Linked DNA regions of Homo sapiens: regions 1 and 2 are each linked to region 3. Evidence: fine-mapped expression QTL. A gene starts in region 3. Each other region holds a variant in brackets. All regions are shown on one strand. Distances are between the middles of the regions. Region 1 overlaps EDA (ectodysplasin A). Region 2 has its middle 23 kb from the start of OTUD6A. Region 3 holds the start of EDA (ectodysplasin A).

The links. PIP is the estimated chance that this variant, and not a neighbour inherited with it, causes the effect.
Region 1: its variant is fine-mapped to the expression of EDA in whole blood (TOPMed, PIP 0.99).
Region 2: its variant is fine-mapped to the expression of EDA in whole blood (TOPMed, PIP above 0.99).

The regions. Positions count from the first base shown.
Region 1 is chrX:70,013,508-70,021,368 of GRCh38, reverse strand. The region is part of intron 2 of EDA (ectodysplasin A); the gene reads right to left. Among named protein-coding and RNA genes, the nearest start is that of MIR676, 5.4 kb to the left of the region's middle. The variant C/T (reference allele first, on the strand shown) is at 4,532.
Region 2 is chrX:70,081,983-70,089,843 of GRCh38, reverse strand. No RefSeq gene overlaps it. Among named protein-coding and RNA genes, the nearest start is that of OTUD6A, 23 kb to the right of the region's middle. RefSeq lists a silencer at 3,268-3,502. The variant A/G (reference allele first, on the strand shown) is at 3,879.
Region 3 is chrX:69,612,541-69,620,401 of GRCh38, reverse strand. It overlaps EDA (ectodysplasin A), which reads right to left and starts at 4,289. Exons shown (of 8, transcript NM_001399.5): 1 at 3,698-4,289. The coding sequence starts at 4,093. RefSeq lists a silencer at 4,342-4,461.

The DNA of each region.
Region 1 (7,861 bases), 400 kb before region 3:
TTGCAAAGGTGTGCTGGCCCGGACCAAGTTTTTGACCGTTTCAGCTGGTTAAGGGTAAGCACTGTTATATCAGACTTCAAAAGCAGACTTTGAAGAAATCAGGCCATCACCAGCCAACCAGTCCTTACAGAGTATGTGTATGGAAGGCAGTAAATAATGAAACGCAACTCACAACTCTACCTTCAAGAACTTACAGTTGAATAGGGAAATACAAAAGATGAGGGAGTGGCTTCAGGAATTATACTGGCCACTTAAGGGGAACAAATAGCTTCCTGGAGAAGGTCTGACTTAAATCCACAAGTGAAAAGAGAGAAATGGAAATTTTAAAATCTTTTTAAGCTTCTATTATTTTCATACAAAATATACCTACTCCTTACACATACATAAACGCATGCATACATACGTATATACATACAAAAGAGGAGCAAAAGGAAAAAGAGCTTATTAAAGCACCCCCAAATAATCACTACTAACATTTCATGCACATCTAGAAGTCTTCTATGTATATAAATAGGTATTTTTACAAAATGGGATCAGATGAAAAATGTCATTTGATAACCTTTTTTATGTCAATAACTACATTTTTACATTGTAATTTTTAATATGGATGCATCAGCGTTTAATCATCTTTGATAAATATTTAGATTGGGTCCAGTTTTTCACTATTATAAACAATGATGTACATTTATAAACAATGTATGTTTATAAGCAATTTATATGTACATTTTATAAACAATTTATATGTACATTTATAAACAATTTATATGTTATGTACATTTATAAACAATGATGTACTTTTTTTTTTTTTTTGAGACGGAGTCTCGCTCTGTCGCGCAGGCTGGAGTGTAGTGGTGCGATCTTGGCTCACTGCAAACTCTGCCTCCCGGGTTCACGCCATTCTCCTGTCTCAGCCTCCCGAGTAGCTGGGACTACAGGCACCCGCCACCACGCCCGGCTAATTTTTTGTATTTTTTTAGTAGAGATGGGGTTTCACTGTGTTAGCCAGGATGGTCTCTATCTCCTGACCTCGTGATCCGCCTGCCTCGGCCTCCCAAAGTGCTGGGATTACAGGCGTGAGCCACTGCACCCGGCCCCACATATGTACATTTTTATACACTTGTCCAAAGGTTTTTTAGGATGTGTCATTAGAAATGACACTGTTGGGTCAAAGGGTGTGAAAAGCTTTCCTTACATGTAGTTAAACCTAATAATCTTTTCCTATATGGTTACTGCCTTCAGTGTCATGCTTACTTAGGCCTTCCCTAATGTGATATTATAGGTAACTCTTTATATATTTTCTAGTTCTTTTATGGTTTCATTTTTATTTTTAAATCTACAATTAATCTGGTATAGATTTTGGCATACAGTGTAAGACAAAGAGTTAACTAAAATTTTTATATTTTTTCCCTAAAATGCCCATGACATGAAGAGTACCAACAGAAACAGGGCTCAAAGTCATTTCTTAAACTTTTATTTTAGTTTCTGGGGTACATGTGCAGGTTGGTCCTATAGATAAACTGTGTGTCACAGGGGTTTGGTGTATATATTATTTCATCACCCAGGTAATAAACGTAGTACCCAATAAGTAGTTTTTTGATCTTCACCCTCCTCCCACTCTCCACTCGCAAGAAGGCCCTGGTGTCTATTGTTCCCCTCTTTGTGTCCATATGTATTCAATGTGTAGCTCCCACTTATAAGTGAGAAGATGTAGCATTTGGTTTTCTGTCCCTGCATTAGTTTGCTTGGGATTACAGCCTCCAGGTCCATCCATGTTGCTGCAAAGAACATGATCTCATTCTTTTTTATGGCTGCATATTATTCCATGACATGTATGTACATTTTCTTTATCCAGTCTACTGTGCTGCATAGTATTCCATGACATGTACGTACATTTTCTTTATCCAGTCTACCGTTGATGGTCATCTAGGCTGATTCCACATCTTTGCTATTGTGAAGAGTGCTGCCATGAACATACATGTGCATGTGTCTTTATGGTAGAACAATTTATATTCTTTTGTGTATATACCCAATAATGAGATTGCTGGGTTGCATGCTAATTCTGCTTTAAGTTCTTTGAGGAATCACCGCACTGCTTTCCACAATGGCTGGACTAATTTACACTCCCACCAGAAGTATATAAGTGTTCCTTTTTCTCCACAATTTCACCAGCATCTCTTATTTTTTGATTTTTTTAGTAATAGCCATTCTGACTGGTGTGAGATGGTATCTCATTTAGTTTTGATTTATATTTCTCTAATGATCAGTGATGCTGAGCATTTTTTCATGTGCTTACTGCTCATGTATATGTCTTCTTTTGAAAAGTGTCTGTTTATGTCCTTTGCCCACTCTTTAATGGGGTTGCTTGTTTTTTTGCTTGTATATTTGTTTAAGTTTCTTATAGATACTGGATATATCTTTGTCAGATACATTGTTTGCAAATATTTTCTCCATTCTTTGGGTTGTCTGTTTACTCTGTTGATAGCTTCTTTTGCTGTTTTGCTATGCAGGAGCTCTTTAGTTTAATTAGGTCCCATTTGTCAATTTTTGTTTTTGTTGCAATTGCTTTTCATGTCTCTGTCATAAATTTTTTTCCAGGGTCTATGTCTAGAATGGTATTTCCTAGATTTTCCTCAAGGGTTTTTATAGTTTTGGGTTTTAAATTTAAGGATTTAATCCACCTTGAGTTAATTTTTGTATATGGTGTAAGGAAGGGGCCCAGTTTCAATTATCTCTGCTTATGGCTAGCCAGCTATCCCAGCACCATTTATTGAATAGTAAGTCCTTTCTAGATCGTTTGTTTTTGTTAATTTTGTCAAAGATCAGATGGTCATAGGTGTGTGACATTATTTCTGGGCTACCTATTCTATTCCATTGTTCGATCTGTACCATACTGTTTTGGGTATTGCAGCCTTAACATATAGTTTGAAGTCAGGTAATATGATGCCTCCAGCTTTGTTCTACTTGCTTTGGATTGCCTTGGCTATTCAGGCTCTTTTTTGGTTCCATATGAATTTTAAAATAGTTTTTTCTAGTTTTGTGAAGAATGTCATTGGTAGTTTGATAACAATAGCATTGAATCTGTAAATTTCTTTGGGTATTATGACCATTTTGACAATATTGATTCTTCTGACGCATAAACATGGAATGTTTTTTCCATTTGTTTGTGTCATCTCTGATTTCTGTGAGCAGTGCTTTGTAATTCTCAGTGTAGAGGTCTTTCACCCCTTGTTTAGCTGTATTCCTAGGTATTTTATTCTTTTTGGGCTGTTGTGAATGGGACTGCATTCTTGTTTTGGCTCTCAGCTTGGATGTTGCTGGTGTATAGGAATGCTACTAATTTTTGTACATTGATTTTATATCCTGAAACTTGCTGGAGTTGTTTATCAGATCAAGGAGCTTTTGGGCAGAGACTATGGGGGTTTTCTAGGTATAGAATCATATTGTCTGCAAAGAGGGATAGTTTGACTTCTTCTCTTCCTATTTGGATGCCTTTTATTTCTTTCTCTTGCTCGATTGCTGTGGCTAGTAGTTCCAATACTGTGTTGAATGGGAGTGGTGAGAGAGGGCATCCTTGTCTTGTTCTGGTTCTCAATAAGAATGCTTCCAGCTTTTGCCCATTCAGTATGATGTTGGCTGTGGGTTTGTCATAAATGGCTCTTATTATTTTAAAGTACGTTCCTTCAATGCCTAGTTTGTTGAGGATTTTTAACATGAAGTGGTGCTGTATTTTCTTGAAAGCCTTTTCTGCATCTATTGAGATGATTATGTGGTTGTTGTTTTTAGTTTTGTTTAGGTGGTGAATAATTTTTATTGATTTACGTACATTGAACAAACCTTGCATTCCAGGGATAAAGCCTACTTGATTGTGGTGGCTTAGCTTTTTTGAGGTGCTGCTAGATTCAGTTTGCTAGTATTGTGTTGAGGATTTTTGCTTTTATGTTCAACAAGGATATTGGCCTGAAGTTTTTTTTGTCTCTGCCAAGTTTTGGTAGCAGGATGATGCTGGCCTCAGAGTGAGTTAGGGGGAAGCCCCTCCTCCTCAACTTTTTGGAATAGGTTCAGTAGGAATGGTACCAACTCTTCTATGTACATCTGGTAGAATTTGGCTGTGAATCCACCTGGTCCTGTGCTTTTTAGTTTCTTAGCAGGCTATTTATTACTGAGTCAATTTTGGAGCTCATTATTGGTCTGTTCAGGGATTCAATTTCTTCCTGGCTCAGTCTCAGGAGGTTGTATGTTTCCAGGAATTTATCAGTTTCTTCTAGGTTTTCTAGTTTGTGTGCATAGAGGTGTTTTTGATAGTCTCTGATTTTTTTTTTTGCATTTCTGTTGTATTGATGGTAATGCCCCTTTTGTCATTTCTGACTGTGTTTATTTTGATCTTCTCTCTTTTTTTCTTTATTACTCTAGCTAGTGGTCTATCTTATTTATTCTTTCAAAAAACCAAGTATGATTTCATTGATCTTTTGTATGTTTTTTCACATCTCAAATACATTCAGTTCAGCTTTGATTTTGGTTATTTCTTGTCTTC[C/T]GCTAGTATGGGGTTGGTTTGCTCTTGTTTTTCTAGTTCCTCAAAGTGTGATGTTAGGTTGTTAATCTGAGATCTTTCTAACTTTTTGATGTGGGCATCTAGTACTTAGCACTGCTTTAGCAGTGCCCGAGAGATTCTGGTAAGTTGTATCTTTGTTTTCATTAGTTTCAAAGAATTTCTTGGTTTCTGCTTAATTTCATTATTTTCCCAGAAGTCATTCAGGAGCAGGTTATTTGTATGGTTTTGAGTGATCTTCTTGGTATTGATTTCTATTTTTATTGTGCTGTGGTTTGACAGTGTGGTTGGTATGATTTCTGTTTTTCTTTTTTAATTTGCTGAGAATTGTTTTATGGCCAATTGTGTGGTCAATTTTAGAGCATATGCTATGTGCAGATAAGAAGAATGTATATTCTGGGTTTTTTTTTAATTGGTAGAGAGTTCTGTAGATGTCTGTTAGGCTCATTTGGTCAAGTATCAAGTTCAGGTCTGAAATATCTATATTAGTTTTCTGCCTCAATGATCTTTCTAATACTGTCAGTGGGGTGTTGAAGTCTCCCACTATTACTGTACGGTTATCTAAGTCTCTCTGTAGGTCTCTCAGAGCTTGTTTTATAAATGTGGGTACTCCTGTGTTGGGTACATATATATTTAGGATAGCTAGGTCTTCTTGTTGAATTGAACCATTTACCATTATGTAATGCCCTTCTTTGTCTTTTAAAATTGTTGTTGGTTTAAAGGCTGTTTTGTCTGAAGTTAAAATAGCAATCCCTGTTTTTTTTTGTTTTTTTTTTTCTTTCTCCATTTGCTTGGCAGATTTTCTCCATCCCTTTACTTTGGGCCTATGAGTGTCACTGTATGTGAGATGGGTCTCTTGAAGAAAGAAGTTGGGTCTTGCTTCTTTATCCAACTTGCCACTATGTGACTTTTAATTGGTGCATTTGTCCCATTTACATTCAAGGGTAATATTGATATGTGCAAATTTGATCTTGTCATTGTGTTGTTAGCTGGTTATTATGTAGACTTGATTGTATAGTTGCTTTATAGTGTCAATGGTCTATGTACCTAATTGTGCTTTTGTGGTAGCCAGTAATGGTCTTTCATTTCCATATTTACCACTCCCTTAAGGACCTCTTGTAAGGTCTGGTGGTAATGAATTTCCTTAGCATTTGCTTGCCTGAAAAGGATCTTATTTCTCCTCTGCTTATGAAGCTTAGTTTGGCTGGACATGAAATTCTTGGTTGGAGTTTCTTTTTTTTATTGTTGTTTAGATGGAGTCTCACTCTGTTGCCCAGGCTGGAGTGCAAAGGCGTGATCTCGGCTCACTGCAACCTCCGCCTCCTGGGTTCAAGTGATTCTCCTGCCTCAGCCTCCCGAGTAGCTGGGATTACAGGCATGCACCACCATGCCCGACTAATTTTTGTATTTTTAGTAGAGACAGAGTTTTGCCATGTTGGCCAGGGTGGTCTCAAACTCCTGACCTCAGGTGATCCACCCGCGTTGGCCTCCCAAAGCGCTGAGATTACAGACGTGAGCCACTGTGCCTGGCCGGAGTTTCTTTTCTTTAAGAATGCTGAATATAGGCTCCCAATCTCTTTTGGCTTGTAGGGTTTCTGCTGAAAGGTCCACTGTTAGCCTGATGGGGTTACCTTTGTAGGTAGCCTGCCCCTTCTCTCTAGATGCCTTTAATACTTGTTCTTTCATGTTGACCTTGGAGAATCTGATGACTATGTGTCTTGGGGATGGTTGTCTTGTACAGTATCTCATAGGGGTTTTCTGCATTTCCTGGCTTTGAATGTTGGCCTCTCTAGCGAGTTTGGGGAAATTTTCATGGATAATATCCTCAAGTAGGTTTTCCAAGTTGCTCGTATTCCCTCCCTCTCTTTCAAGAGATGCCAATGAGTGTTAGATTTGATGTCTTTACATAATTCCCTATTTCTCAGAGGTTTTGCTCGTTCTTTTAAAATTCTTTTTTTCTTTATTTTTGTCTGACTGATTTAGTTTGGAGAACCAGTCTGTGAGATCTGAGGTTCTTCCTTAGCTTAGTCTATTCTGCTGGTAATACTTGCAATTGCATTATGAGATTTTTATAGTGTATTTTGCAGTTCTATCACATCAGTTTGGTTCTTTCTTAAAATGTCTATTTCATCTTTCAGCTCCTGTATCATTTTATTGTAGTCCTTAGATTCCTTGGATTGGGTTTTGACTTTCTCCTGAATCTTATTCTGAATTTTATGACTATCATTCCAGCCATTTCAGCCTGGCTAAGAACTCTTGCTGGATACCGGTACATTCATTTGGATGTAAGGAGAACTCTGGCTTTTTGAATTGCCAGAGTTCTCATGCTGGTTCTTTCTCATCTGCGTGGGCTGATGTTCCTTTAACTGTGGTATAATTTCAGTTATGGTCAGTTGACTTTGTTTTTGGATGTATCAGAGGGCTGAGGCTTTGCGCTAGGTCTTCATTTGTAGCTGAACTCTTGTCCTTGATTTTATCGGGGGGTACGCTAGCAAAGTATTTTTGTTGTTGAAATTTGAGCTGTGATCCAGTAGATAGCACTTAGGCATAATGGCCAGTAGGCAGGCTCTTGCCCAGCCATGTGGTTCCTCTGTATTTCCTTGTGTCTTCAGCTGTGCTCCCTCTCAGTGATCTGAGGGTGTGGGCTCCCTTCCTACATGAGTGCTGGCTGTAGATCTCAGCTCTCAGCTCTCCACTTGGCACTCCTGGGCTGTGCTCAGGCATTATGTTCCCTCCCCAGCTTGGGGACTGAAAGGGCCAGGACCTTGGCAGTGGCAATGGCAGAGGGCCTGCCACTTGTATCTTGGAGCTCCACCCCAGATAAATATAGAGCCACTACCGATTGGAGCAATCAGCCTGGGGTAGGGCAGCTGTGCCGTGGGCCCAAGCCAGGGCACCCTGCCTGGTAATGAGTAGGGAGGCAGGGGTATTGTAGGGGAAGACAGACTGGCCTCTTCTCCTTAGGGCAGCTGTGGTATGCTGGAGGTGTGAGTAAAGCACTCAGGATCTTAGTTCCTTTTCCAGTCAGAGAGCAGCAAGGGCAGTATCAATGCAGTGGCAGTGGCAGAAGGGCTTTCAGTCGTCTCTGGGAGCTCCACCCCAGAGAAATGCAGAGCTGCTGCCAATGGGAATGTTCAGCCAGAGGGTGGGGCAGCTGCACTATGGGCCTGAGCTGGGGCCCTGCTTGGTGAAGAGCAGGGGGTCAGAGGCTCACTGGGAAGAGAGACTGGGCTCCTTTCCATATGGCAACTGTGGTGTGCTGGAAGTATAAGTAAAGCCCTTAGGCTCTTTGTTTCTTCCTCAGTCTGAAGGCAG
Region 2 (7,861 bases), 470 kb before region 3:
AGTGTGTAGTGATGAGACAGTGAGAGTAAGAGAGAGGAGAGAGAAGGGGGAGAGAGCAAGAGTGAGAGTGGAGACACAGAGACAGAGACAGAGAGAGGAGTGGGAGTGGAAGAGAAAGAGAAAGAGACAGAGACAGAGAGAACAGAGAGATGGAGATGGAGGAGAAAAAGACTGAGACAAACACACACTGTCAAAGATGGAAAGAGTCAGAGAGAGGGAGAGGAGAAGAAAAGAGGGAGAGGGAGGCAGAAGGAGAGAGGGAAGAAGAGGGAGAGGGAGGCAGAAGGAGAGAGGGAAGAAGAGAGAGAGAGAGAGAGAGAGAACCAAGAAGTGGGTGTGAGCTACAGGCAGTCCATGGAGCCCAGAGCCCTTTTGTGCCTGAATGACGGTCCTGAAGCCTTTTGGGGCAATCCAGAAATCAACAATGTGGGTTTCCCAATGGAAGAACTCCCAAAGCCAGTCACAGACCTCTTCATTAGCTAACTTCTGATCTCCTTTCTGTCAGCTGCCCCCTGGATATGATTCCCTCAGGTCTTGGTCAGTGGGCTGAGCATTAGAGGGAGCACACAGGCAGCTCTTCCTCCAGCCACCTGTGGCAGGAATATACATGCAGGCATCTCTGGTGATGCTTGGCTGTGAGGGGTAGGCCAGTCTTCTAGACCAGAGTGACACTAAGGCACTTAGACCCATTGCCCAGATAATAAATGAGTTATTGCCTAAATTCTGGGGGAGGGCTTAGACTTGCTGTCACATAATGTCCCAGCAGCCACCTGGTTTGGCCTAAGACTTTTTGAGCTTTCATTCTCAAAGAACCCTTATTAAGCACCTGGGCAGAAGCCCTGCATGGGAGGATTCCAAGGCCAGGCCCATGCCCACAGAGAGGCACCAGAAGGAAATAGCCAAAAGACTGCTCAGGCATAAAGGACATGTGATTAACCAAGCAAACAGGTAACCAGGGCAGAAATGCATAATCAACAAACACATCTACACAGTGTACAAGAATAAGGATAAAGACATACCTGAGAGCAGACAGTGAACACAACAGGCAGGGGAGAGCCAGTGAACTGGCCACTCTTCTAACTAATCAGGAAAGGCTCTCTGGATCAGGTGGAATTTCAGGTTGCTGAGCATGTCTGCCCTCTCTGTAATTTGATTAAAATTGGTTTAGAAATTTGTGCTATATTTCAAGTGAGTGCTGTGCTTAAAATGTAATTGCATTTGGCTGCGTATTTGACATTCTTGAAATTAGAGCAGCTTGCGTGCAATAAGGAAATTTGTCCAGAATGGAATTTGATTTTTAAGCCAATGCATAGAAGAGCAGTTGTGATCTGAGCCTCTGATGGATAGTTCTTTTAGGGTTGCCTCTCGGCTGGCTCTCTCTTTGCACTTCCTGTTCATTCTGGAACTCTTCTCTGGCGCTCAGAAAGAGGGAAGCTTCTTGACCCGGGACTCCAGAAACCACATTTTTCGTGGCAGTCAGAGTTGGAGCCATCTTGATTTCCCCGTCTAGGCCTCTTCTATGCATCTGCCAGCCTCCGACTATGTATGCCAGACTGGGGCAGTTAGAGACCTTGTCTTTGTCACCCAGGACTTAGGACCTTTTTCTGGGATCCGAAACTCCCAGAGCTGGTACTCTGTTCAGACTGGCTTGCTCTCCTTTGTCAGAACCCAAAAGAGCTGTCACATTGGCAGGCAGGCAGACAGCAGCTTTATCTAATCTTCTTCTGGTCTTATATTTGTTTCCTGGGCATGGCATGTAGAGGCCTCCAATTTGGCATCAGTCCAAGGGATAGGGCTGGCCTCTCTATGTCTCAGCTTTCCTTAGTAAACATATGCTGCCAGGCCAAAGGAAGGAAAGAAACATTTTTAGAGCACATGCTCTGTGTCAAGTGCTTTCACAAATGCCTCGTTAAATCCTCACAATACACTGAAGAGGTAGGTCTTGCTTTGTTTTTGCAAGGGGGAAACGGAGGCACAGAGCAGTGAAGTAACTTGCTCCAAGGTCTCAGTGCTAGAAAGTGGGGGAGCTAGAATTGCAGTCTAATTGGATCGATTCTCAAAGCAAGCTTTTCCCAGTTTAACACAGCTTCTCTGCAACAACTGTGGCATTCCTACCAAGTAGCAGTCTGTCTGTCTGGGAGCAGACACTATTAGGCCCTGTCAGTTCTCCATCCCAGGGCTTACCTTTGTGCCCAACTGGGGCCACCACCACCATTCTCACCACACCTGTGAAGGGCCAGCTGATAGTGGCCTTTGCTCCTCTAAATTCTTTTTTGTTTTTCTTTTTGAGTCAGGGTCTCACTCTGTCACCCAGGCTGGAGTGCAGTGGTGTGATCACAGTCCACTGCAGCCTCGACCTTTTGGGCTCAAGTGATCCTCCCACCTCAGCCTCTTTTTTTTTTTTTTGAGATGGAGTCTCGCTCTGTCACCCAGGCTGGAGAGCAGTAGCATGATCTTAGCTCACTGCAACTTCCACCTCCCGGGTTCAAGCGATTCTCATGGCTCAGCCTTCCGAGTAGCTGGGATTACAGGCGTCTGCCACCACACCCGGCTAATTTTTGTATTTTTAGTAAAGAAGGGGTTTCACCGTGTTGGCCAGGCTGGTCCTGAACTTGTGACTTCAAGTGATCTGCCTGCCTCATCCTCCCAAAGTGCTGGGATTACAGGTGTGAGCCACTCCATGTGGCCTCAACTCATCCTCCTGAGTAGCTGAGATTATAGACGCACGCCATCATGCCCTGCTAATTTTTCTATTTTTTTGTAGAGAAGGGGTTTCACCATGTTGCCCAGGCTGGTCTCGAACTCCTGGGCTCCAGCAATCCTCCCACCTCAGCCTGCCAAAGTGGTGTGATTACAGGCGTGAGCCACCGCACTGGTCTGCTCTTCTAAGTTCTAATTGGCCAAAAGTTTGACCCAGCACAGAGGTATAATTTGACAGGCAGGCTGCTGAGACAGGTTTGTAAGTGTCTCGTTTGAGCCACTTCCAACAGAACATGCCCCTGAGGTATGAGGTCCACCACCCCTCCATGCGCCCAGAGCATAGTGTGGTGTGAGAGGGATGATGTCCTGGAGCCTTGAACACAACTCTTCCTTCCCTTGGGGAGGCAGCTAGTTCTGAGAACCTTTCCCTCCTTGGGATGCTTGGTGTTTACCATATCTGACTCATATAGCTGTGTGCCCAGGCTGTTTCATGACAGGATGCCCACCACTCTTGAAAGTTAGCACAGCTCCTTTTGGGGAGGTATTTGTGCTTCCATTATGAAAGAGGGCTTCTGTAGAATGAGCTGGGTTTTGCTCTCCACTGCTACTTCCCTGAGGGACCAAGGTGGTGGGGTAGGGTCTTCTTCAATGATTATAAACCCAGGCTTAAGTCTCTTTCTCTACTACCATTTTTCTTACTGGATGAACCTCTTATGGAAGGAACAATTCTTTTACAGAGGTGAAAGTCTTTGCCCTCCAACTTGGGGTTTGTCCTGGAGTCTACTGGCAAAAAACAACTGCAGCAAACCTTCTGTTTAAAGTGTGTGTGTGGCCAGGTGCAGTGGTTCACACCTGTAATCTCAGCACTTTGGGAGGCCGAGGCGGGAGGATTGCTTGAGCACAGGAGCAGCCTGGGCAACATGAGACCCCGTCTGTATTAAAAAAACAAAACAAAACAAAAGTCAGGCTGGGTGCAGTAGCTCACGCCTGTAATCCCAGCACTTTGAGTGGCCGAGGCAGGTGGATCACTTGAGCCCAGGAGTTTGAGACCAGCCTGGGCAACATGGCGAAATCCCGTCTCTACTAAAAATACAAAAATTACCCAGGCGTGGTGGCTTGCACCTGTAGTCCCAGCTAATTGGGAGGCTGAGGTGGGAAGATCACCTGAGCCTGGGGAG[A/G]TCGAGGCTGCAGTGAGCTGTGATCATGCCACTGCACTCCAGCCTGGGTCACAGAGTGAGACTCTGTCTCAAAAAAAAAAAAATAGCGTGTGTGTGAGGTGGGAGAGCTCAAGATGGAGACATCCATTGAGCATTGTATTGAATGAAAAAAAAGAGCACCCCCCCATTCCCCCCGCAAGACAGAGTCTTGCTCTGTCACCCAGGCTGGAGTGCATTGGCGTGATCTCAGCTCACTGCAACCGCTTCCTGGGTTCAAGCGATTCTCCTGCCTCAGCCTCCCGAGTAGCTGGGATTACAGGTGCCTGCCACCACACCCAGCTAATTTTTTTGTATTTTTAGTAGAGATGGGGTTTCACCATGTAGGCCAGGCTAGTCTCGAACTCCTAGCCTCATGATCCGCCTGCCTCAGCCTCCCAAAGTGCTGGGATTACAGGCATGAGCCACTGCGCCTAGCCAAAAATAAAATTTTTTAAATTAAAAACTTTTTTAAACGTTGTACCTGGTGGTGGGCGGCGCCCTTTGTGGATTCCAAGCCCTTTGTTTTGAAGGAAGAAATCTGAAGAAAATGCCAAGGAGGCCTTCACCTGGGCAGGGGGATGGGGTAGGTAACGAGATCTAGGGCCCAGGGAGTCCAGGGATATTTGAAGAGCAACTGGTTTATCCATTTGCTACCTTCTCAGAACCCCTGGGCTTCGCTCAACTATTTATGCTAATCCTGTAGGCATGTGAGTTACCTGCCATTTACATAATGTCTTAGATTCATGGACCAGCAGCATTAGCATCATCAGGCGTTTGTTAGAAATGCAGACTCTCAGGATCCTAAATCAGAATCTTCATTGTAACAAGATCCCGGGGTGATTCAATGCACATGAAAGTTTGAGAAGCACTTGTTTAGTAGACAATGGACATCTGCTCTGGAAACTTGGACAAAGTTCCTGGGCCTCTGGATTACTTGCCCATGTTTGCTGTTTTGTCACCTCCTATCCTAAATCCTAAAGGGCCTATGGGTTTGTTTCAAAGACAGCAAGAAATCAGGGAACCAGAGAAATGTATCCTACTTTGTAGGCAGTCTGAGAGAGGAGAGGTGACGGTAGCTAGAAAGGAGAGACGCTCATGGACCTAATTGGGGCTTATGAGAGAATCAAAGTGCTACCCAACATCCATTTCCTAGTTATATTTAGATGTGACCTGGTTGCCAGATGTTAAATCAGCCTGTTAAAGCCCAGGGCTAAGAAGCCAAGGGTTATGAAATGAAACCAGGCTGCTGAACACAAACAGAGAACAAGCGTTTTAGCTGTAAAGTTTAACTGGATGCTTAAATGTGCTCTCCTGTAAACTTGTCATACAACCTGAGCTTGCACTCCTCCAGTGACAGGGAACTCATTACCCAGTACCTCACAAGGTATCCATTCTGATTCATGGTCGATCAGTTCTCTTAGAAAGTTAATTCCTTGTATTGAGCTGAAAGATGCCTCCCTGAAATTTCTACCCACTTATGAATCCTAGTTCTGCCCCTTGGGCACCACCCCTCACATCCCACCTGCTCTTGCAGCTTTATAATAGCCCTTCAGAGGTACAGAACCCACACTGCGTTGATGTAGTGAATGCTTATAATTTTATGTTGCCTCGGCATTCATTTTGAATGCAGGTTTAGCTTTCTCGTGCCAGAGGCAGGTCTCATTCAATCACCCTTGACACCGTTTCCAGTACCGTTTCCAGTTCGACACCACACCCAAATGGCTCCAGTAGGTGTTTGGAGATAAGAACTTAGAGACATCTCTGGTGCAGGACCATTCAAGCATTTGCCTGTGAAATTAAAAGCGACCCCCACACACCCTATTCTCCAATATATGCTGCTAGTTGACATGCTCTCTTCTCTCTCACGTGCTCCCTGACCTTGTGTGTGTGCCTGTGTGCATGCGGCCTCCAGGGCATGCCGTGTACACCCCAGGGTGGGTAAGTGCTAATAAGAACTCTTAGACTTTCACATTGTAGTTGTGTCATTGAAGCAGTGCCCGCAGTCTGACCCCTGACCCTGAGGCTGCCTGCCAAAAGGGACCCATGCAAGTTGGTCCCCTGCTGATGTTCTTTTGACAGGGCCTCTGGTGGCTGCGAGGGACAGTTGCTACCAGCTAAATTGATTTTAAAAAAACTTGGGCCGGGCGCGGTGGCTCACACCTGTAATCCCAGCACTTTGGGAGGCCGAGGCAGGTGGATCACGAGGTCAGGAGTTCAAGACCAGCCTGGCCAACATGGTGAAACCCCTTCTCTACTAAAAATACAAAAATCAGCTGGGCATGGTAGCGGGTGCCTGTAATCCCAGCTATTTGGGAGGCTGAGGCAGAGAATCGCTTGTACCCAGGAGGTGGAGGTTGCAGTGAGCCGAGATCGTGCCACTGCACTCCAGCCTGGGAGACAGAGCAAGAATCCATCTCAAAAACAACAACAACAACAACAACAAAAAACAAAACAAACAAACAAAAACCAACTTGAAGAAGTTCATTCAAAACACTCAAGTCTTCTCTTCTTCAAGCTAAGCAGCCCCAGCTCCTTCAACTGTTTCTCTTGGGACCTGGGTTCCAGCTTTCTCTCTAGCCTCTCTGTGTCCCGCGTAACTGACATCCAAAACAGGATTAAGTTGCAAAGGAGCAAAAGACACACCAAGAGGCTAAGCAGCAGCCTGGCCCTGTGGCTGGTGACAGGTCTCCAAATGCTTGCCAAGGAGGCTTAGCTTAGAATCTAAGGCCTTTAGTCAGATGGTAATAAAGGACTTTAGTTGATTTGAGAGCACTTTTAGAGCCTGGTGTTTCCCACCAGGGACAGAACAAGGCAGATTTTAAGCAGTTGGCCATCCTTGCAGTACTGGTTCCCAAGCTACTCTTTTTATCAAGTCTTTCTTGAATACATTAGCCTCTTTCAATAACCAGTATGCTCTCCATCTAGGGAGGGCCTAGCAGCAGTTTTATGTCCATCTCCCTGCCACTCTCACTTTGCCAGATGTAGCTCTATACTGCGTGACACTTCCCCTGTCAATGACTGTCTTCACCAACGAGGGACCCTAGTCAGACGAGTCATAAAGGAGTACAACTCTCACTTTGCCTCATTATTAGGTTTTAGTCCCCCTTTCTCCTCCTGAGCTGGTCACAAGACTTTTCGGGTGATTTTCATGAGTCTACTTGAACATTCCATTGCCTAACCTACTTTTCAGGTCATACTTTCAGTGGTCCTGCACCCCCCAACTATGGTGAATGATAAAAACAAAGCAACACTGATAGCTAATATTTACTGAGTATTGGATGTTTATTATGTTTCAAGCACTTTACATATATCAACTTATTTAATACAACAACCTTATGAAATGGGTACTATCTATTATTAGCCCCATTTTTCAGATGAGAAAATTGAGGCACAGAGAGGTTAACTCACTTGCCAAAGGTTGCACAGGTAATAGTAGTACAGTATTCAGAATCTGGCTCCAGAGTCTACATGCTTAGCCACTGTCACCCTACAGGCAAAACTTCCTCAGTGTGGCCCACAGACTACCTACATTAGAATCATTTGAAGAACTTATTTAAAAAGTCCCAGTTTCTGGGGAAACTGTCCCTCCATGCTCCGTCTTAGAGGGTGGATCCTTCTTCACTTCATCCTCTGTCTGTGGATCTCACATGCCACTATGTCTCTTAAACTTAAGGGACATCGGAAGCACCTTTAGAGCTGGTTAAAAATGCTGTCACGGGGAATCCACCTCCAGAGAATGCCATTCAGTAGGCCTGGGGTGGGATTCAGACATGTGCAATTGCTTTAACTGTGATAGACATTGAGGAATCCTCACTGCATATTTTCTCCAGCTTTCTTTACCCACTCCTGGCCTCCTCATCGTTCAGCAAGGTCCTCAACAATCTACTTTACCTAAGGTGTGTTCTCTCTGCTCTCTAGTGCACAGAACTCTTGGCTTTTCAGATCTTAGGGGAGGCCATTCCCTT
Region 3 (7,861 bases):
CAATGTTTTGTAGAACTTTAAGGTTGACATCTATGACATCACTTCAAATAATTAGGAACATACTCCAAATAGCCCTAACAGTTCTAAGTAAATCTGTATTGATCTACCCATAATTTTGACTATTACTTGAGACAATGAGTTGAATAAGATACTACCTTTATTTGCCTCCTCTTGAAAATAATTTTTCAAACATTAAAAGGTGTCTAATACTTAACATTGTGTCTGGCACAGCAGGCTTTCTATTTATTGAACTGGATTGTTACGTTACACCAATATATTAATCATATTCATCTCGCTCATGGTTTGGTAGACTTTGATCATATTCCTCCTTCAACCTCTTTCTATCCAGACTGAAAAACCAACTAGAAAATCCCTTCATCCTTTTGATCAATTTAATGGGGTTTTTGAGGACTTTTATCAGCTGTTAGGCTTTTCTTGAGGAGCAGCCACCAGAATTTCCTGTCTGATTGTAGAAGCCAATCTGCTTTTGATCTTGTACATGGAAAAAATAAGTGTTTTGTAAGTGGTTTGTTTTGTTGTTTTTGACACCCTTCCTGATGATACCCACTACATTCTTGGCCTTTGAGGACCACAATCACAACCGGCGCAACATCTCCACAGAATGATCAACAGTGATTTTTAGTTTTTTACTCTGACGATCATATTACTGTATATTGTCCTAATTCAGACACAAATGAGATATCCCTTGCTCTTGAGATAATCTCCACCAACTATCCAGACAAATCTCAGCTACTTGGTTGCTCCAGCTGAAGGAGATGATTGATTACGGAAGGTCTGATGTGACTCTCTCACTTCATCATCAGCAAGTGTGTCCCCACCAGGGAGACTTTTCTAACATTTCACATGGAGAACTGTGCTGATCTCTCTGCTCTGTATCCTACCTGCCCTAACTTCCTTGTGTGCCCTGCTTAAAAAGTTTTTAAATTGACAGATGATATACATACATCTACAGTGATTTCCAGGTCCCTTTCTTGAGTCATAACTGAGAGCCCAGAGCCCATCATCTCATAAGTATGGATAGGTTTACTTTTGCCTACCTGCATGAAGTGTCTCTGACTGTTCTGCCCACTTGGTCTCATGAGAGCTTCCTGCAGTTTACTCTCATCAGCTTGCCTTCACTCCTTACAGATAAACTGGTAAGAAACCTGAATGTACTGCCCGTTGAAGGGTGTATATTTTTATCTTTCTTCCTCTCCATCCAAGATTTGCTGTAACAGCAGTTGTTTGTGTTTAAAAACTAAAATATAAAAATATGACCTACGTGGCCAAATCCCACAAGGCTGTTTACTTCCTTATTTACTGAATCAGAATCTGTCAGCACAATGTAGAATTCTGAGTGTCAGCAGATACTGAAAATTAAATGTCACTGTAAAGCCAGCAGAGGGTGCACCAGGGCACTAGAAATTTTAACCAAGCTTGTAGCAGTATTAATTTAATACCCAATCAACTTTTTTAAAAAGTTATTTTTGTATACTAAAACTAATATACAAGATAAGATAAACTTAAGTTGAACAACTTAAAATAAACAAGTTGAATTTGGGCTAAAATTCCTTCAAAGTATACTCCAAATCTGAAAGTGAAGTTCAGGAAGAATAAGGAACACACGGTTAAACTTACTGTGGTCAAAATACAGGCAGAGTAGAACAAAATGATGCAGAGCTGAGCCCTCTACTTTGCAAAAGTTCTAATGTGGAGCTCCATCTTGCTCCCTCGCAAAAGGTCCCAGGAGGTAGTTGGGGGAATGGGCACCCAACTAGGAGTTAGAGCAACTATCATCCCAGTTTTGACTCTAGTTATGTGACCTTGGGCAAGTCACTTTCCCTTTAGGGCCTATGTTTCCCAAGGGAATCAAACGAAATGGACTCATATAAGCCCTTCATAACTCTAGGAAACTGATTCCAATTGATGTCAACAAATGTAAAGAGCTAGTATCCTTGCTTCTATTGCTCAAAAATATTAAAACAGAAAGAATAAAAGACAGAAGATAGGAAGCTGTGTTTAAATCTAGACAGAACTATTTTAGTGCCACACAAAGGGTAGGTAACTAAATGCCATTATACACCTGTAAGAGTTTCATGCCATCACAGAAACCTTACAGTACAGCTGTTCTGCTAATCCTCAGTCTATAAAAATGGCTCTGTCCATCCTGAATGCCAAAAAGTATTGGCCAACATTTGATTAAAGAAGTTTAATTCTTTCATCTTTTCACAGAATATCAATGTTCAGCTGCTAAATACTTCTGCTGGGCATTGGGGTGTGGGGGGAGTGGCAGTAGATAAATAAAGGAGTCAGAATCCTAGTTAATTATCGTTTAGCTACAATGTTTAAAGTTTCAAGTATGAGAAGCATGTCTGCTGATTCTCTTCTTTGATAAGCTGTTATATAAATTGGAGTGTGCTAGTAAGACATTTTAAGGCTCAGGGCAACTTTACAATGCACATCTTTTTTTTTTTTTTTAAGTATCAGTCCTAACATTACACTATTATCATGAATATGATGTCTCTATCAAGCGTACCACTTTAGATGGGAGGTCAAAGTGGCACAAATAATGTTTACAGAGTTGTGACAATGACTCTGGATGTGGCAGTAAATATAGAAGGCTTGGGTCCCTCACCTCAAGGAACTTATTTGTACAACTTGCTCTCTTCCCTAAGAGGTACAATTTTATTATTATTCTTTAGCCACCTCGAAAGGATCCTTGGATGCTTCTCCTAAGTTTCACATATGGCAACCAAGACAGTATTTACGTTAAGTGAACGAAATTTACTTGAATAAAAAGCTAGAAAGAATAGAATAGAAAACAAACACCAAAGCTAATAGTTTGCTTATTAGGGCACAAACACCATAAAGATTGCAAAAACAAACAAAACTGCTCTTGGGGGACGAGTCCTGAGTAATTATTCCATTGGCAGATTCCCGTTCTCAAGCTAACAGTAGTAAAAGCGCTTCCCACCCACCCTTCCCACCGCACACCTACCCCGCTTAAGAATCAGAACCGGCATGCAAAGGGTGAGTTTTATTTCCATAGATTTTTAAAATTGCTGTTCAGAAGTTGTCTAGCAAGACGGCATATTTCTACCAGAATTCCTCAGGGGCGCTGATCCTCACTAGAACGCCGAGGACAATCAGTCTCAAATTGCAGGTAAGTGTGAACAAGCCCACGTTCTGGTCAGCGCACAAGGACCCGCGCTGAAAATGCGGTTAAAAGTTGTTTCAACGGGCGGGCGTGGAACAGTTATTACAGCTGTTTACAGCTCCAACTCCAAAGGGGAGCCTGCTGGTTCTGGCATCAGCTCTAGACACGAAAAAACAAGCACCGCGGGCAGAGAACCTCATCACGAGCAGAAGGGCCAAGCCGTTAGTCGGCCGGGGGGCAGCGCAGGCACCTCCTCGACGGGAGCGTCGCCAACTTTTCTCGAGGCAGCCCGCAGCCAGGGGCCGCGGGCGCGCGCGAGACTTTCCAAGTCAAGGGGTCCCCAGGGAGTCTGGATTAGCTGGGCCAGGGACCGAAGACAACCTGCCCTGGGCAACTTCTCCCTTGCTCGCCTGGTCCCTCCCTGGTCCTGCCCTCTAAATTGGCTCGAGGTTGCTGAGTGCTCCCAGGCCCCTGTGGCGGAGGGCCCTCGCCCTACCCGCGAGGGGAGGGGGCCGCCGCCGCCCCTACTAGGTGACTCACCTGGTGCCCGTCCTGGGAGTCAGAGTGGAGTGCGGCTTCTCCCGGTTCCAATGGCTGCTGCTTAGGTGACGGCTGCCCAAGGTGACTGGTGATGGGGCTGTCAGGGTCGAGGCCACCGAGGCTGCTTAGGGTGCCAGAGGTGCCAGGGGTGCCCGAGCCGCCAAGGCGGGACTCGGCTCCACGTTCCCGCCGCAACTCCGAGCGCAACTCTAGGTAGCAGCACAACGTCAGCAGGTGGAGGGCCAGCGAGAGGCCAAAGAAACCCAGGAAGAGCAGGCAGCTGTTCCCTTCGCCCGCCCGGGCAGGGGCCCCGCCACACCCGCAGCCCTGGCTCCCTCGCTCCCGCGGCGCTGCTGCAGGCAGGAGTTCCCTGCGCTCCACCTCCGGGTAGCCCATGGCCTCCGGAGACACCCACTCTCTTGAGGCCCGGGAGCCGCTGCGTCTGCCTCAGCCGTTCACGACCTCTGACAGGCGGCTACTGTCCTGCCATCGGCTGGGGGCTGCAGGGACCCGTTCCTGCGCGACAGTGGCTGGGCGGGACGGAGCAGGGAGCAGCCGCATGTGCAGCTCTACTCCGAGGGGTGGGAAAGGGAGGAGGAGGGGCGGGAGAGAGGGGAGGCTCGGCCCGCCGAGGGAATGAAGGAGGAGGTCCCGGCCGACCCCGCCCCATCCCTCAAGCGGCTGCCGGGACGCCCAACCACGGGGCCGCCAAGCCTTGGCGCCCCGCCCCGTGCCGTTCCAGCCGGGCCTCCAGCCGCGGGGCGGGGCCTGGGGGCGTGAGGGTTCGCCTCTGCCTGGCCGCCCCACCCAGCTCTTCCCGCTTGCCCCGTACCAGTTGGTGACTGGCGCTGTCGTTCATCCCTGGGCTCCGCCCCAGTTTAACCCTATAGCGCCAGTACGGGGAGGAAAGGAGGGGGAGGCTAAGAATTTGGGAACCTTGGAAAGAAAGTAGAGCAAAGAAAAGGAGGCAGAAACTAGCATTAATAGAAATGTTTGCAATTAACTGCAGTTGTTAATAACATCATCCAGTACTTATCTGTTGCTTCCAATCTTCAAAGCGTTTAACAGACGTTAAACTAATTAAAACAGCTCTGGGTTTGGAATGAAACCATGCCTGCTGTGTTTGCAATTCAATGGCTCGCCCGAAGAAAAGGAGACCCAGGAGCCTGGGAACTATGGGAATGGGTGGGACTCAAGCAGCCTCACTCCTGGAGTGACTCTGAAGGCTCAATCTAAGTAACAGAGAAGCCGCCCCATGCCAAGCGGAACTGAAATGATGTTGTCCCTTGAAGGGTAAAACAGTCTCCTAGGATTTCTTGATATATTAATTAATTCAACAAATATCTATCGATCCCTGTACAATGCAAAAAATGCTGTATGAGAGCATCCACAGCCAGAATAGATTTCTTCCACTGCAGCAGTTTTGATTGGAGAACGTATGTCTTCAGTGAGTAGACAGGGAAACCGAGGGCCAGAATGAAGTGGATTTGTACAAGTGTGGTCCACAGAATGGCCAGACACTACTGGCATCTTTATTTACAGGCAACTGTTCTGGCCTCTCCACCCCTCCCATCCTTCTCCTGGAGTACTCCCTGGGGGAAGTTCAACAAGTCAGCCAAATGTTCCAGATGTACACTGCTGCAACTGCAGCATCTTCAACAGCTGCACCAATCAGAAACGGGTTCAGATAAAAAAAAAAAAGTGGCAAAAGGCAGAACAATAGACCCTGAAATGAAGGATGGAAAGGATTAAATCAAGAGTCACAATTGACAAGAGTTACTAGTCTGAGATTATAGAAAGCGAAATGACCATAGCAGGGGAACCATGTATGCTTCATAGTCACTACGCACTCTCATTCCGTGTTATTGAGTAATGAATAATTAACAATTTTATTGACTTGCAGCAGGCATCTTGAGTGTCATCATGGAGGCTCAGCAATGCCGGGGGCACTTATGTGTAGGCCTAAGACCTAGGCTGGTGGAAGAGAAGAAAAACATAGATAGAAATAGAAAAGAAGACAAAATAAGAGAAATAAAACACAAAACCAAAAGCATCTGCTGGCAGGTCAGTCCAGAGAGCACAGAGGTCATAAGCCTTAAATATATTAGCCACAGACAACTTTTCTCTGTACACTTTGTGAATGGTCTCAGTGCTTCAAAAACATCTTTGTGTCGTCTCTTTAACCCCTACCCATGAAATATAAAGTTCACAAAGAATATCATCATCCTAGAGCTAAGGGGAAAAAAGGTGTTTAACAGCTGCTCTCAAGTCCTGCTTGTCCAGTCCAGGAATTCTAGATGCTAGGAAAACTGCCAGGCTGATTTACTTTAATTATCACAGCCCGGGATTATTGGAAAGAATGCTAGACCAGGAGTCAGGAGACTTCATCCTGCCACTAGGTTGCTGGGTCCCTCTGAGCAAGTCACTGTGCTTTTTCAGGGCCTTAGTTTCTCCGGCAGTAAAATGAGGAGTTTGAACTTTAACAGCCTTTACACTGTGTTTTGTCTGTGTTGTCACTGGCCATGTTGACTTTCTTGCATACACAGTTTAAACAGGCTGCCCTTTCTTCCTCTAAAATGAAAAGGAAACAAATGACAGCCATCTCCTGGTGGTGATGGTGATGCTCAGGGGCCACACTGGTCTCACCTTACCATGTTCTACCAGGCTTGACTGAGACTCTGGATTACACCATTGCCCTCAGAAGCCCTGAGGGTTGCATTTGACCTGGGACCTCTCTTTGCTTCCCCAGAGAAAGAACATGTGTCATCATATGCAGTAGAAATGTTGGAATGGGGCAATCCAGAGAGGAATGTATGTGGTTATTTTTTAAGTGTTTTAAAGTTTTGTTTCAGTTAGCTTCTATGCTTCCATACGTATCCTGTCCCCTAAAGCACAGGTCTCAATGACAGCCTGCAGGCCACATCCAGCAAACAGATGTGTTGTGTTCGGTGCAGTATCAACTAAACCTTTGAATTAAAAAAAAAAAAAAGCAATTGTCAGCTATTGGAACTCTGGAGATTTCACATTTTTAAAAAATCCAGATTTCCTGCTTTTCTGTTAAAAAACCAGAAGACCCTATAACTCTGGATTCACATTCCCATGTGGCTACACTCAGCTAGAACTGTCTCCTTGAAATAAGCATGAACAATCAAGTTCCACAGCCATCACCACCTCTTTCTTCTATCCTTCATTACTGTCCTTGTCACTCATTCACCTTACCTCTTTGATCCCAGGTACTACGGGAGACAAGATATAAGCTCCTTAACATGCCCTCTAGTCTGTCTCTCCAACATTATCTTCCACCATTTTACAAGGAAGTCATGCTTGCACACTACTAAATTTGCTGACACTTCTCACACCACCGTGCCTTTGAACAAACTAGTTTCTTTGTCAAGATTGCCCCTACCTTAGAAACCTGATAAATTCTTCAAGAATCAATTCACATGTTCTGTCTGGTATGGCCCCACAACTCACTCCAACCAGACTTCCTTTGTGCTTTCATTGCACCCTGAGCATACTTTGATGATATCACTTACCACACTGCATTTTGAATGTTTCACATGGATTTCTTACCACTAAACTATGAGCTCCTTGATGGTAAGAATTGTGTCCTTTCTATTTTGCTATTTCTAATCTCTAGCATAGCACCTACCACATAGTAGGCACCAATATTGTTTTATTTTGATATTTCTAATACCTAGCATGGCACCTACCACATAGTAGGCACCAATATTGTTTGTCAAATGAATAAGACATGAAGTCACTCACGGTAACTTAGACTACCTAGAATTCCAAAAAGGGAACTTGTCCAAGGGATGCCTGTCCGTACCACTTATGAAACATTTCCTGGGTGAAGAGCTACATGATACATTATGGAAAGTTACAAAGGAAATAGAACCAAATGAAAATTGTGAAATTATCCTCTTACTTGTGCTGCTATGGAAGTTGTGAGTAATCCAGAAAAATAAATAATCCAGAAATTAAAATATAGTTGGTTTGTAATATTTCACTGACCTGTCTGTCTCATCAAGTTTCCCTTCCTACTTTTGTTTGTCTGGCCCTAAAAAATAATATAGCTGGGCGTGGTGGCTCATGCCTGTAATCTCAACACTTTGGGAGGCTGAGATGGGCAGATCACCTGAGGTCAGGAGTTCCAGATCAGCC